4 linked regions of the Homo sapiens genome follow. The protein of the gene in region 4 interacts with the protein of the main gene of each other region in a pairwise test. Each region holds a gene or a part of one and is shown on either strand. Other genes may lie near its edges.

Region 1 (3,500 bases), on a different chromosome or scaffold from region 4:
CACTGAATGCTTGGCTGTTACACAGCAGGCTGCTGGGTCTGGTGTACCCCAACCAGGTGGCCTCCCAGCTGCCAAATTGTGTGATTACAATTAGTTACCTCTATTCCTTTATCTGTTTATGTTCATTGTACTTGTTATTGTAATTGTGCAACTTAACCAGTGAACTTTGAGTTCAGAAAAGAACAAGGCTCAGCATGGTGGCTCACGCCTATAATCCCAGCACTTTGGGAGACCAAGGTGGGCGGATCACATGAGCCCAGGAATTTGAGACCAACCTAGGCAACATGGTGAAACCCCCTCTTTACTGAAAATACAAAACTAGCCAGGCACGGTGGTGTGCAGCCTGTAGTCCCAGCTACATGGGAGGCTGAGGCACAAGAATTGCTTGAACCCAGGAGACGGAGGTTGCAGTGAGCCAACAGCACGCCACTGCACTCCAGCCTAGGTGACAGAGTAAGAGTCTGTCTCAAAAAAAAAAAAAAAGAAATTACTGCTCACTTATATGGACAAACAAACTGAGAAGACTGGAGAGGGGATCTTAAAAGTCTAGAAGGACTCTGCACATAGATTACTTCATGAATGTTTTTAGGTTTTTGTTCTTTATAAAAACTAGGACTGGAAAACATAGGTCATTGATTATGGATGTGGCATATGAAAGAAAGACAACTTAACAATTCAAACAAACAAAACAAAACAAGATCTTGGCCCTACAAAGATTACCAAATAACTACATGTTTATATACATATAAAAGATTTATTTGCTAATAATATGTAATATGGTCTCGAACTCCCGACCTCAGGTGATCCGCCCGCCTCGGCCTCCCAAAGTGCTGGGATTATAGGCATGAGCCACTGTGCCTGGCCATATTTTTTATTTTTTGTAGAGATGAGGTCTCATGTTTCCCAGACTGGTCTGGAACTCCTGGCTCAAGTGATCCTCCCTTCTTGGCCTCCCAAAGTGTTGAGATTATAGGCATGAGCCATCACATCTGGCCTGATTATTTAATATTTTCATTTGCTTCCTCTTTGCACATAATATATAATTAGTAATATATAAAGTATGTATATATAAATGTATATTTATCTGCTAATCTTTGTTCTTAGGGCCAAGATCTTGTTTTGAGTTTTTTTTTTTTTTTTGGAGGCAGGGTCTTGCTCTGTTGACCAGGCTGGAATGCAGTAATGCGATCTCAGGTCACTGCAGCTTCCACCTCCCAGGCTCAAGTGATCCTCCCACCTCAGCCTCCCAAGTAGATGGAAGTACAAGTGCCTGCCACCTTGCCCAGCTATTTTGTGTGTGTGTGGAGACAGGGTCTCACTATGTTACTCAGGCTGGTTTTGAACTCCTGAGCTCAAGCGATCCTCCCACCTCAGCCTCCCAAAGTGCTAGGATTACATGCATGAGACACCACGCCCAACCTACATTTATATTTTTTAATCAACCGTATCCTTTACTTGATACTTTATCATACACTGTGTGGAAGACTGTAACTTCTTGAGTAAGATTTTATAATCCAAAATTGGGTAATATGATATTCATCTGTCATATTATTCAACTTTGGCCCTGCTAAAGTACTTCCAGTGAGATTATCCCTCTTCCCCCAGCCTTTCCTTTTTTAGAGCCTCTGTGAGGAGAAGTGAGAGACAGGGATGGGCTTGTTTGTACTCTTAGAAAGGCCAAATGATACAGAACATACAACAAATGACATCACAGTGCCTAGGAAAGTTAAAGCTGCTCCTAACGGGTCTGTTTTTACCCAGGGAGAAAAATGACTACTAATAGGATTGTGTGAGTTAGATTTCCCTGTGCCTTAAAGCTGTTTTAATAAAGAAAGGATGAAGCTGTTCCTAAGTTGTTAGGTTCGTTTGTTGTACTTTTCCACTAGAAGCCCTATATCTCTTGGCAAAGGGGAGCTGCTTCACATTTTCTCAGATCCTTCAGCTCACCAGGTTGGAACGGAGAGATGATTGACATTGGAGCTCTTCAGTGGGCAGAGACTGGTGGCCTGTTTGTCTGTAAAATGCCCCAGAGGAGCAGGTGGACTGACGTCTCTGCAGACTGCACCTTCCAGCAGGCTCTAGAGAAGAGAGTAAGACACAGGTAGCAATCCCAGAGGCAATAATCATGACAAAGGGCTTCCAGCAGATCCCAAGGTGGTTTGGGAGTCCTTTTGTAACACATCTTGGTCACCGTTCAATATTACATTGCTCTAAGATCATGATGGGTTCATTGATCCCGTCATGACTGGACATTTCTGCTTCTCATTTCTCAAAATCTTTCCTGGAAGCTTTTTTCCCCTGCTTTCCCTTCTGTTTGCCTAATACCAGTTAGTCATGTCTTCCATTACGTTATTTTTTGCCTCCTTCCCAAGGTGTGAATTCTGGTCTGAATTCATACTGCAGTCTCCATTCTTTTTATGTCTTTGCCCCAATCCTACTTCTTTGTTTCTGCTTTAATTCTCATTTCTCAATAAAAATAGTGCTGCACATCTACTGTGTGCTGTGTCTGAAGCAATCTATATCTTCATAGCCTAGTACAGAAAGGAAGGGCCCTTGTTCAGGAATACAATTGTTTATTCATTTCTTCAGCACACATTTTTGGAGTGTCTGTGTAAGACCTTGGGAATACATGGATAAATAAGACTGCTCAGCATTTTGGGAGGCCTACGTGGGAGGATCGCTTGAGCTGGGGATGTCTAGGATGTGGTGAGCTGTGTTTGCATCACTGCACTCCAGCCTGGGCAACAGAGTGAGAGAGACCCTGGCTCCAAAAAGAAAACACCATAAAATGAAATGATCCCTTAAATAGACTTCCTTTGTATACAATTAGTTGATCTCTTTGTTCATAAAACAGTAAAGTTTTATGAACTGCTTAGAAAATCTTTTCTTCGGCTTGGTTATTTAACATATTTCTGATGTGTTTTGTAAGAGCAGCTTAGCAATGATGAATAAAAAGGAGTATGAGCTCAGACATAGTGCTTATGCTTTTCTTAAAAGGAGGAAGGATTGTGATTTTTCTTTTTTCCTTTTTTTTTTTTTTTTTGAGATGGAGTCTTGCCCTGTCACCCAGGCTGGAGTGCAATGGCGCCATCTTGGCTCACTGCAACCTCCGCCTCCCAGGTTCAAACGATTCTCCTGCCTCAGCCTCCCGAGTAGCTGGGATTACAGGTGCCTGCCACCGCACCCAGCTAATTTTTGCAGTTTTAGTAGAGATAGGGGTTTCACCACCTTAGCCAGGCTGGTCTCGAACTCCTGACCTTGTGATCCACCCTCCTCGGCCTCCCAAAGTGCTAGGATTACAGGTGAGAACCACCGCGCCCGGCCTTTCCTTTTTTTTTTGAGACAGGGTCTTGCTCTGTCATCCAGGTTGGTGTGCTGTGATGCAGTCATGGCTAACTGCAGCCTTGACCTCCTGAGCTCAAGCGATCCTCCTTCCTCAGCCTCCCGTGTAGCTAAGATTACAGGCATGCACCACCATGCCTGGCTAATTTATTTTTAGT
Region 2 (3,500 bases), on a different chromosome or scaffold from region 4:
AGTTCAAGACCAGCCTGCGCAACATAGCAAGATCCCGTCTCAAACAAACAACATTAAAAAAAAGAAAGAAAGAAAGAAAGAAAAAAAAATTATTCAGCTGGGTGTGATGGCTCACACTTGCAGTTCCAACTGCTTGGGAGGCTGAGGTGGGAGGATGGCTTGAGTCCAGAGTTTGAGACCAGTGTGGGCAACATAGCAAGACTCCATCTCAAAAACAACAACAAAAGAGTTACCTGGCCCAAAACAGTGCTAAAGCTGAGAAAACCTGTTCTATGTAGGAAGCACTCGAAAACAATTTGCTGGTAACATGCTGCATCTAGCACCTTTGGAGCTGCTCTAGATGTTAAAATCAGGTGTGTTGCAGAAGGTTGGGCTTGCCTTTGTCTTTCAGAGAAACTTTTAAGTACCTCAAGGCATTAAGAATTATAATTTCTAAGAGACTACTATTCTGCAAAGGCAATGTTAATCACAAATAAACACAATTTGGTTTTTTGGAAAATGACTGGAAAATATTTATCAAGTAACTTACAAATGTACATGCCTTCCTTCTGGGAACTGCTCCTACAAAAATGATTCCAAGATATTTACTACATTTTTCCGAATCATTTTATAAGGCCAGTATTACCTTGTTACCAAAATCAGACAAAGATATAGGAAGAAAAATATAGGTCAAGGCCGGGTGCAGTGGCTCACGCCTGTAAGCCCAGCACTTTGGGAGGCCAAGGCAGGCAGATCGCCTGAGGTCAGGAGTTCAAGACCAGCCTGGCCAACATAGAGTGAAACCTCATCTCTACCAAAATACAAAAAATTAGTTAGGCGTGGTGGTGCACACCTGTAGTCTCAGCTACTTGGGAAGCTGAGGCAGGAGAATCGCTTGAACCTGGGAGGCAGAGGTTGCAGTGAGCCGAGATCATGCCACTGCACTCCCGCCTGGGCAACAGAGCAAGACTCCATCTCTCAAAAAAAAAAAAAAAAGAAGGAAAAATATAGGTCAGTATGGGTTATGAATACAGAGACACAAAAATCCTTAACAAAATGCTAGCAAGCAAAATCCAGGAGCATATAAAAAGAATTATATACCAAGACCAAGCGCGATTTATCTCAGAAATATAAGGTTGGTTCAACATATGAAAATCAATCAATATACCATACTAATAGATGGGGAAAACCTCACATGATTTTCTCAATTGATACACAGAAAAAGCACTGGACAAAATGCAACATCCTCTCATGATTAAAAAAACATTCAACATACTAGAAACAGAAGGTAGTTTCCTCAACCTGATAAGGAGCATCTACAAAATACCCACACCTAACATCATACTTAGTGGCCAAAGACAAAGTTTTCCCTCTATGGTCAGGAATAAGACAAAGATGTTGGTTCTCAATACATCTGTTCAACATTGTAGTGGAAGTTTTAGACAGGCAATTAGGCAAGACAAAGAAAAGGCAACCAAACATGATCTTATATACAGAAAATCCTAAAGAATCCACCAAAAATCTACTGGACCTCACAAATGAATTCAGCAAGGTTGCAGGATACAAGATCAATATAGAAAAACCAGTTGTATTTCTATACACTGGTTCAGGCAATGAACAGCCTGAATATGAAAGAAAAGTTACATTTACAATGGCATCAAAAAGAATAAAGCACTCCTCTGGTCCTGCTCAGGCTCAGTTACAAAAAAAAAAAAAAAAAAGAGAAAAAGTACTTAGGAATATATTTAACAAAATTAATATATGGCGTGTACACAGAAAACTATAAAACACTGTTGAAAGAAATTACAGATTGAATGCAATCCCTATCAAAATTCCAAATGCCATTTTTTTAGCAATGGAAAAGCAGATCCTAAATTCATATTATGCAAGGGACCCAGAATACCCAAAATCATCTTGAAAAAGAACAAAGTTGGGATGACTCGCACCTCGCAATTTCAAAATTCATTACACAGCTACAGTAATCAAGACACTGTGTTACTGGCATATGGATAGAAATATAGATCAATGGAGTAGCATTGAGACCAGAAATAAACCCATATGCCTATCTATGGTCAACTGGTTTTCATCTAGGTGCCAAGACCATTCAATGAAAGAAAGAAGTGTCTTTTCAACTGCTGGGACATTTGAATATCAAACTGCAAAAGAATGAATTTGGATCCTTACTTCATACCATATGGGACAAAAATGAACCAAAATGGATCTCGATCTAAAACTATAAAACTCTTTGAAGGAAACAAAGGTATAAATCATCATGATCTTGATTAGGCAATGATTTCTCAAATATGACACCCAAAACTCACACACACTACATATATATATATACACACACACATACACACATAAATTGGGCTTCATCAAAATTGAAAACTTCCGTGCATCGAAAGACATTATTTAGGGCCGGACACAGTGGCTCACGCCTGTAATCCCAGCACTTTGGGAGGCTGGGACTGGCGGATCACTTGAGGACAGCAGTTCAAGCCCAGCCTGATAAACATGGCGAAGCCCCGTCTCTACTAAAAATACAAAAATCAGCTCGGTGTGGTGGCGGGCGCCTGTGGTCCCAGCTATTTGGGAGGCTGAGCCAGAACAATCGCTTGAACCCGGGAGGTGGAGGCTGCAGTGAGCCGAGATGGTGCCACTGCATTGCAGCCTGGGCGACAAGAGCGAAACTCCGTCTCAAAAACAAACAAAAAAAACTCCGTCTCAAAAAAAAAAAAGAAAAAGCTACACAAATAGCCAACTGGCACATGAAAAGATACCCAACATCATTAGTCCTTAGGTAGATGCAAATCAAAACCACAGTGAGATACCACTTTATTTATTTAATTTTATTTACTTATTCCCTCCTACCCCCCTTTTGGCTGAAGTGCAGTGGCGCGATCTCCGCTCCCGGCAACCTCCATCTCCCCGGCTCAAGCCGTCCTCCTGCCTCAACCTCGGAGTAGCCGGAATTACAGGCACGAGCCACAACACCAGGCTAATTTAAAAAATATTTTTGGCCTTCCGCCACGGCCGCCATGGAGAGCAGCAGCCATGGCTCTGCGCTACCTTATGGCCGTGGGCCTCAACAAGGGCCACAAGGTGACCAAGAACGTGAGCAAGCCCAGGCACAGCCGCCGCCGCGGGCGTCTGAGCAAACGCACCAAGTTTGTAGCGGGACATGATCCGGGAGGTGTGTGGCTTCGCTTCGTACGAGCTGCGCGCCATGGAGTCACTGAAGGTCTTCAAGGAGAAATGGGCCCTCAAGTTCATCAAGAAAAGGGTGGGGACGCACATCCGTGCCAAGAGGAAGCGGGAGGAGCTGAGCAAGGTACTGGCTGCCATGAGGAAAGCCGCTGCCAAGAAAGACTGAGCCCCCTCCCCTGCCCTCTTCCTGAAATAAAGAACAGCTTGACGGAAAAATAAAATAAAAATAAAAAATATTTTTGTAGAGACGGGGTCTCGCTTTGTTGCCGCCCAGGCTGGTCTCGAATTTCTGGCCTCCAGCGATCCTCCTGCCT
Region 3 (3,500 bases), 9.2 Mb from region 4:
ATTTATTAAGTTCACTTATATTGGTGCAGTTTGTGGCACCCCACAATTAAAACAGTAACATCAGAGATCATTGATCATAGACCACCATAATGGATAAAATAATAATGAAAAAGTTTGAAATACTGCAAGAATTATTAAAGTGTAACCCAAAGACTCAAAGGGAGCACGTGCTTACTAAAAAAATGGCACCAGTAGATGCTCAATTCATGGTTGCCACAGACCTTGTGTAAACAGTGTAATGTCTGCGAAGCACAATAAAGTGCAATAAAATGAGAAATGCCTGTATATGTATATATATACATGACATATGCACACACCCACACACACAGTACAGGGTCTGACCTCTAGTAATGCCTAGTGATGTTAATTTGTATTATGTTAGTGCACGTTGAGCATCTCTAATCTAAAAATCAGAAAGCCCAAGTGCTTAAAAATTCAAAACTTTCTGAGCACTAACATGATGCTCAAAGGAAATATTCATTGGAGCAGCATTTCAGATTTCAGATTTTTTTGATTAGGGTAAGTATATAATGCAAATACTCCAAAATTTGAAGAAAAATCTGAAATCTAAAACACTTCTGGTCCCAAGCATTTCAGATAAAGGTTCGTCAACCTGTATTGCCAAAAAATATTGAGGTCTATTTTGTTTTATATCTCCTACCATATTAGTAGTAAACAAAGAAATCCCATTAAAAGGTATTTACCAAACATATTGTCATAAACTGAGGAGAACCCAAGAAAGGAGAGATGAAACTGAGATTCAAGCACTACTTCTCCTCTGAATTCTACAAAAGTTCAGACCTTGGGGACCCCAGACTCTATTGTTTACTCTGAAGTAGTAGTACTTTTCTCTATCCCAGCCAATGTGGTCTTTGGTCCTAAAACATCTTAAATTACTATCTCCTATTGGAGTTTCCTTTTACAGTGGAGAACACAGGCTCTTCAAAAGCTCAGAGATTGTAACAGTAGGGGTACTCACCCTAGCCTTACAGTAGCACTGGAAGAACTTTCATTCTGTCAGTACCTACACCCTTTGAGCTCTGAGAATGTAAAACTCAATCTTCAGACTCTGCCAGTCGGCATCTCGTTCCATTCCTTTCTCTACTCTGAGCTCTCCGAGAATCTGACTAGTTTTCTTCTTTTTACTTTGATGATTTCTCCTGTACCTTCTCTAACCTAATGATGGATCACACGGCCTCAGGCCCAACCTTCTCCCCTTTAAACCAAATTGTTTGGCTCAGCTTATCGTGGTGAGAGGATCTTAGCTTAGTCTGTAGGTAGTGGCTAAGTTAATGACAGCGGAGATGATTAAATGAGATTAGAACTGACCTTAGTCATGTCGGATTTTATAGCTAAGAACCACTGGATCCTTACTGTCATCTAGCGCTCTCCTTTCCTCTGTTGCTGTCCTCAACAACAGTTCCCCTTCTTTCCACCAAGTCACAAAAGGAGAAAATGAACGTGAGAGGCGGGAGTCTCTCTCAGTGTTTAAATGTCAAGTTAGTTACATTAGATTGCACAAGACGATGATGACATTTGGGTCAAGGATGTTACAGATGTCTGTGAAATGTTAAGATCAGACAAATGAGCCTGTGGTTTTATAATCTTTTCCATTTGATCTCTCTCAAGTTGGACCTGGTTGAAATCTGCAGTGAAAATTGGACCAGGTTGAAATTGGAGATTAAAAAAAGAGAAGGAAATATTTTTCTGAAGTTGATATACTAGTTCAGTTAAATGTGTTTATTATATCAAAATTACTTTTTTCTGACTTCATGTTTTATATGTCAAACAGAAAAACTAATCATGTTTTAGATGAGCATTTCAATAGAACTTTAATGTTCTGTGTCTACACTGTTCAGTATTATGGTAACCACTAACCACATGGCTACTAGATTGGACTGAATAGCTTTAGACCAAAGTATCCAAATGTGTTTCTGGGTCTTTTTTTTCAAGGTTCTACTTTTACGTTTGTGACAGGAATTAAAATCCAACTCTGCTCATTCCTGAGAGTGAATGTAAGGTAACATAGGTGAATTATTTCAGGTCTGACTATTGACTATAAAAATGTATAATAGTTACTCATTTTTTAAATAAATATTTCCTAAACAGTTTCTGTCTGGGCAAGTCATTTTCTGAGACTTGGTTTTCTTAACAGTAAAATCTTAGAAAAAGGCACTTTAATGCCCCTTCTACCTTCTTTTGAATTGAACAGAACCACATTTTCAAATTTTTTTGTTAACTGTGATTTGTACTCTATGATATTATTTGACCTCTGTTAAAGATGTTTGTTACTGCAGTATTTTGTGCCAACAAAAATTAGGCCATCTCTCCAAAGATGATATGTACGGAGCTTACCATTGTTTTCATTTTGTAGCTACCAGGTGCAGGGTACTAAAACATTTAAAGGTAGAAAATGCACCAATTGTAAACCGATTTGACTATGCACAGTGCAAGAAACTGAACATGGATCAGGTACTAGACCAGATACTAAGAATGCCACCCGAGAGAAACCGCATCATATACCTACGCCCAATGCAGCAGGTAACGAGCTTTGCTTCTTTCCGATGATACACATATTGTGGTGTTTTTCTTTTTCTTTTTCTTGTTAGTCTTTAGCCTTTTGGATTTGGCATTCATTCACTTGCCCAACCTACAGTAATGATATTTTAGTTTTTACAGGTTATGTATGATATAGGGAGTTGTTATTCAACAGGTTTTTATACTTATTAAAAGTTACCTGTGGTTTAAGAGCACAGTCTCTGGTTCAGACTGCCTGATTAAATTTCTGGCTGTCTGACCTGTAGCAGATTATTTGACTTCGATGTCTTAGTTTCTTCATCTGTAAAATTAGAATAATAATGATATACCCAGGATTATTGTGATATTTAATATATGTGAAACTCTAAAACATGTGCTAGTATATAGTAAGCCATCATATAACTACTGTTAGTGTCATTATCATTATTAAGAGTATATTGTATATAAGGTTCTGTGCTTAATGCCAAAAGAGGGTTTAAAGGAAATTTTAAATGCCTCTTTGTAATCAGTGTGTAAGCCTGGCCTCAAAAGAGTCAGTTCATCATATTGTCAAGTGTCTCAAAACTTAAAATATGCTGGGTGCAAATAAAAACACAACACATGATCCTTCCCTCAAGGAGTTTGCCTTCCCAAAAAGGAGACAAACACTTATGCCACGCAGATGGCCGAGTGAGATTTCATAACTAGAGATGGGGGAGGGTATGCCATGAGAAAAAAGCAATGTTATCAAAGGCTCCTAGAAGACAAGAAAATGCATTCTCTCTTAAAGACTGGGCAGCAGTCTCATTTGAATAGGGTATATGTTACTACACATTCACAGTTCTATAATGCAGTCAGTACTTAATAAAGGACATACACAGAAGTGGATTCTGAGTTGACTGACGTCATTTATCTCAATCAGGATTCTCTGGTTTAGTAGGCATTTAAATATAACAGTGAGATATAAATTGCCAAGTTCCCTA
Region 4 (3,500 bases):
GAACCCAGGAAGCGGAGGTTGTGGTGAGCTGAGATTGCACCATTGCTCCAGCCTGGTCAACAAGAGCGAAAACTCCATCTCAAAAAAAAAAAAACTGTTCTGGAAAAACAAACCAATGATGGATAGCCCTATAACAAGTTATTAAGATATTAGGTTGTCAATTTTTGGTTCTTAAAATCAGTAACAGGAATGTAAAGAACTCAGAGGAGACATTTAGAGAGATTAATATAATGAACCAAACAAATATTTGGTAGAAAATAGATTACTTCCACTGCTTTTCTAGAGCAGTGAGAGAATGGTCTCAACAAATCAGTATCATTACTAAGTTCCAGGACAGGATGCCTCATACCCCATTAGCAAGGCAGTCTTTTATGCTGTTAGTAAAAAGACTCTCCTTTTTCCTATTGAATTACCTCAGTTATTTCCTGCATTATCTGCCTAATCTATGGGCTCATCCTGATTTGCTTAAAAGGTCTGAGGTTTTACACATGGATTATTTGCTACTCTGGCAAACCAAGTGTTTTGATCTCTACTGAAATTTTTCCTTCTCCTATTTAATGTTCTCACTTTCCCTCTTCTTTTTTTCTTAACATTGTTGTTCCAAATTCTTAAGACTAACAGAAAGAACACTTCAAACTTGAGGTAAAATTTTCTTGCAGCTATTTAAAAAATAGTAATCTACAATAAAACTAACTCACCAACTGGATGAGTGATGGGATTCTGTAGGCTGGGAATTACCACAGAGTACGTAGGTGAGCGGTAAGGATAAACTGTTGTAGGATTTGTAGAGATGATATTCTGTGTGGTACCAGAAAATACATTGGAAACACTTAGAGGGAATCGTTTTCGCTTCCCTGGACGAGGCTGATAAACCCAACCTATAGAAGACAAAATATGTTTAAATGTGTAGACTCCATTTAGCCTTTAAATAATTTTTTTCATACTAAAATGCAAAGCACTTTAAAGTGTTTTAAAAACAAATTATTGTCTAAAGTATCTTTTCCAGCTCCGGGATATTATTTCAGTGAATGACTTCTCCACTGTGTATTTTAACATACATATCCAAATAGCTCCTGACTAGTGGCCAATGTTATAACTCATCATTGAAAAGAAGAGGGTCAAATTTTTTTTTTTTTTTTTTGAGACGGAGTCTTGCACTGTTGCCCGGGCTGGAGTGCAATGGCACAATCTCGGCTCACTGCAACCTCCGCCTCCCAGGTTCATGTGATTCTCCTGCCTCAGCCTCCTGAGCAGCTGGGATTACAGGTGCATGCCACCACACCCGGCTAATTTTTTGTATTTTTAGTAGAGACGGGGTTTCTCCGTGTTGGCCAGACTGGTCTTGAACTCCTGACCTCGTGATCCGCCCGTCTCGGCCTCCCAAAGGCTGGGATTACAGGCGAGAGCCACTGCGCCTGGCCAAGGGTCAAATGTTTTATAACCAATGACACAGAATGAACCTGTAGTAGAGTCAACATCAAAACCGCTGTATTTGAATCCCAAAGCCTTTCCTCCACCTTATCAAATAATGCCTCACTATGACATTATTCATCTCATTTCCTCACTTTCTGTAAGTTACAATCATCTATATCTTACAATGCAATAGTCACTAATGATCAGTCACTATTTTTTTTGAGACAGAGTCTCACTCTGCCGCCCAGGCTGGAGTGCAGTGGCACGATCTCGGCTCACTGCAAGCTCCACCTCCTGGGTTCATGCCATTCTCCTGCCTGAGCCTCCCAAGTAGCTGGGACTACAGGTGCCCAACACCATGCCCAGCTAATTTTTTTATTTTTTTTTTTAGTAGAGATGGGGTTTCACTGTGTTAGCCAGGATGGTCTTGATCTCCTGACCTCGTGATCCACCCACCTTGGCCTCCCAAAGTGCTGGGATTACAGGTGTGAGCCACCGCGCCTGGCTGATCAGTCACTAATTTTGTGCCTAGTTCAAGAAGAGTCACTCTCCTAAACTCAGCAATCTCCAAGTCCACAAATAACTTAATTTCTTCCAAAGTCAGAACAGTGGAACTATGGCATTTGCAGCCACTGTGTAATCAGAACAATCACTGGTTCACTGTAGTTGCTGCCTCTGACCTTCATTACTAGAACCTCTCTGCCAATATTTCAGAAAATAATAAGTTTTGTCCCACCTTGCACAGACATGCTGGCCATGCACTGTGCATTTTCCAAGCTTAATCCCAATGTTCCCACTGCTAGGGAGAAATCGGACTCCTTTCACACTATATCATGACAGGGCTAAATCTATCAATCAGAAGGCAGGACTATGTTCTGACAATCATATGTTAAAATGGAATATGGTGACAATCCCTGCATTCTCATTAAGCGTAGACTGCATTTTTTTTCTGTTGCTATCATTTTAACACTTCTATAGTTTACTTGCAAAATTATAGCCTAAAGCTTTCAAGATGTACTTTCATTAAACTTACATCTATCTAAATCAAAACCACAATAAAACTGCGTGTCCTCTGATTTGTATGAGTTGGTGAATATGAAATCAGATATCCCTTTGCTTGGTTCTATTTAAGGAAACTCATGCCCAGTGTCATTTCAATCATTGTTATAATATTAGTCATTATTCTCTTTATTGTACATATCAGAAAAAAATTATATATTTTTGTCTTTCAATCTCAACCTACCCTAATCTTTAACTAAATAAATTCATTTAAAAGAAGTAAGAGGCATTATTTAATTTGATTACCAGGAAATTCCTCTCTGTGCTTTTCCTTAATCTTTTGTGCTTCATCGTAATAGGGTTTCTTTTGTTCTTCACTAAGTTTGTTCCACTCTAACCCAAGCTGGACACTGATTTCTGCATTGTTGGCTGCTGGGTTAGCTTTGGCTAGTGCTGGTCGGTGGATCCTTGCCCAAACCATAAATGCGTTCATGGGTCGCTTCACATGACCATTTCTGTCCTTACTGAAGGGAGTATCTGGTATGCCTACATGACAAAAATTAAAAGGCTAAATTAATGTGCCATACACACACACACACACAATTTTAAGGTAAAGTGCACCTCCGTCTATACTTATTTTTGAAATATCTGGAGGAAATATACACTTCAATATAACCAAAAAAACCTGCCAGTATTCCACAATTCCTTACATCCCCTGAACTCATCATTCTGAACTGTAGTTTAGAATGACTCCTTTTCCTCAAAGAGGATAATATTGTTGAAGATAACTGTGGCAATAATCATGTTGAAGAGAGTAAATTGTTGGCTTATTACTTCTTTGATCTGTATTATTAGTACCTCTAACAATAATTAACATTTATTTATTTACTACTAAAAATATTCTACCATTAAGGAACAGGAACCATGCATGACTTACTCGTGACTATAATCTTAGCTAGGTAGAGGTTCTCTAAACATTCACAGGAACTCATCTACATGCTGCTCTTGTGTCCTTTCAAGCAAAACTATTTATAATATTGTAATACTATATTAGTTGTATTTCACTACGAAGGTGAAGCTCTTACCAA

What was found. The genes of interacting proteins can lie anywhere in the genome.
Region 1: the proteins of SOX30 (region 4) and NUDT3 interact in a two-hybrid assay, tested with the Homo sapiens proteins (one large-scale study listed by BioGRID and IntAct).
Region 2: the proteins of SOX30 (region 4) and DCAF4 interact in a two-hybrid assay, tested with the Homo sapiens proteins (one large-scale study listed by BioGRID and IntAct).
Region 3: the proteins of SOX30 (region 4) and FBXO38 interact in a two-hybrid assay, tested with the Homo sapiens proteins (one large-scale study listed by BioGRID and IntAct).

Annotation. Positions count from the first base shown.
Region 1 is NC_000006.12:34,382,670-34,386,169, reverse strand, and holds part of NUDT3 (diphosphoinositol polyphosphate phosphohydrolase 1), read left to right. Parts: intron 1-3,500. UniProt on the Homo sapiens protein: Cleaves a beta-phosphate from the diphosphate groups in PP-InsP5 (diphosphoinositol pentakisphosphate) and [PP]2-InsP4 (bisdiphosphoinositol tetrakisphosphate), suggesting that it may play a role in signal transduction.
Region 2 is NC_000014.9:72,929,464-72,932,963, reverse strand, and holds part of DCAF4 (DDB1- and CUL4-associated factor 4), read right to left. Parts: intron 3,400-3,500; exon of another isoform or gene 3,208-3,399; coding exon of another isoform or gene 3,144-3,207; exon of another isoform or gene 3,000-3,143; intron 1-2,999. UniProt on the Homo sapiens protein: May function as a substrate receptor for CUL4-DDB1 E3 ubiquitin-protein ligase complex.
Region 3 is NC_000005.10:148,435,958-148,439,457, forward strand, and holds part of FBXO38 (F-box only protein 38), read left to right. Parts: intron 1-2,374; coding exon 2,375-2,541; intron 2,542-3,500. UniProt on the Homo sapiens protein: Substrate recognition component of a SCF (SKP1-CUL1-F-box protein) E3 ubiquitin-protein ligase complex which mediates the ubiquitination and subsequent proteasomal degradation of PDCD1/PD-1, thereby regulating T-cells-mediated immunity.
Region 4 is NC_000005.10:157,645,939-157,649,438, forward strand, and holds part of SOX30 (transcription factor SOX-30), read right to left. Parts: intron 2,959-3,500; coding exon 2,719-2,958; intron 879-2,718; coding exon 699-878; intron 1-698. UniProt on the Homo sapiens protein: Acts both as a transcriptional activator and a repressor. Binds to the DNA sequence 5'-ACAAT-3' and shows a preference for guanine residues surrounding this core motif. Binds to its own promoter and activates its own transcription.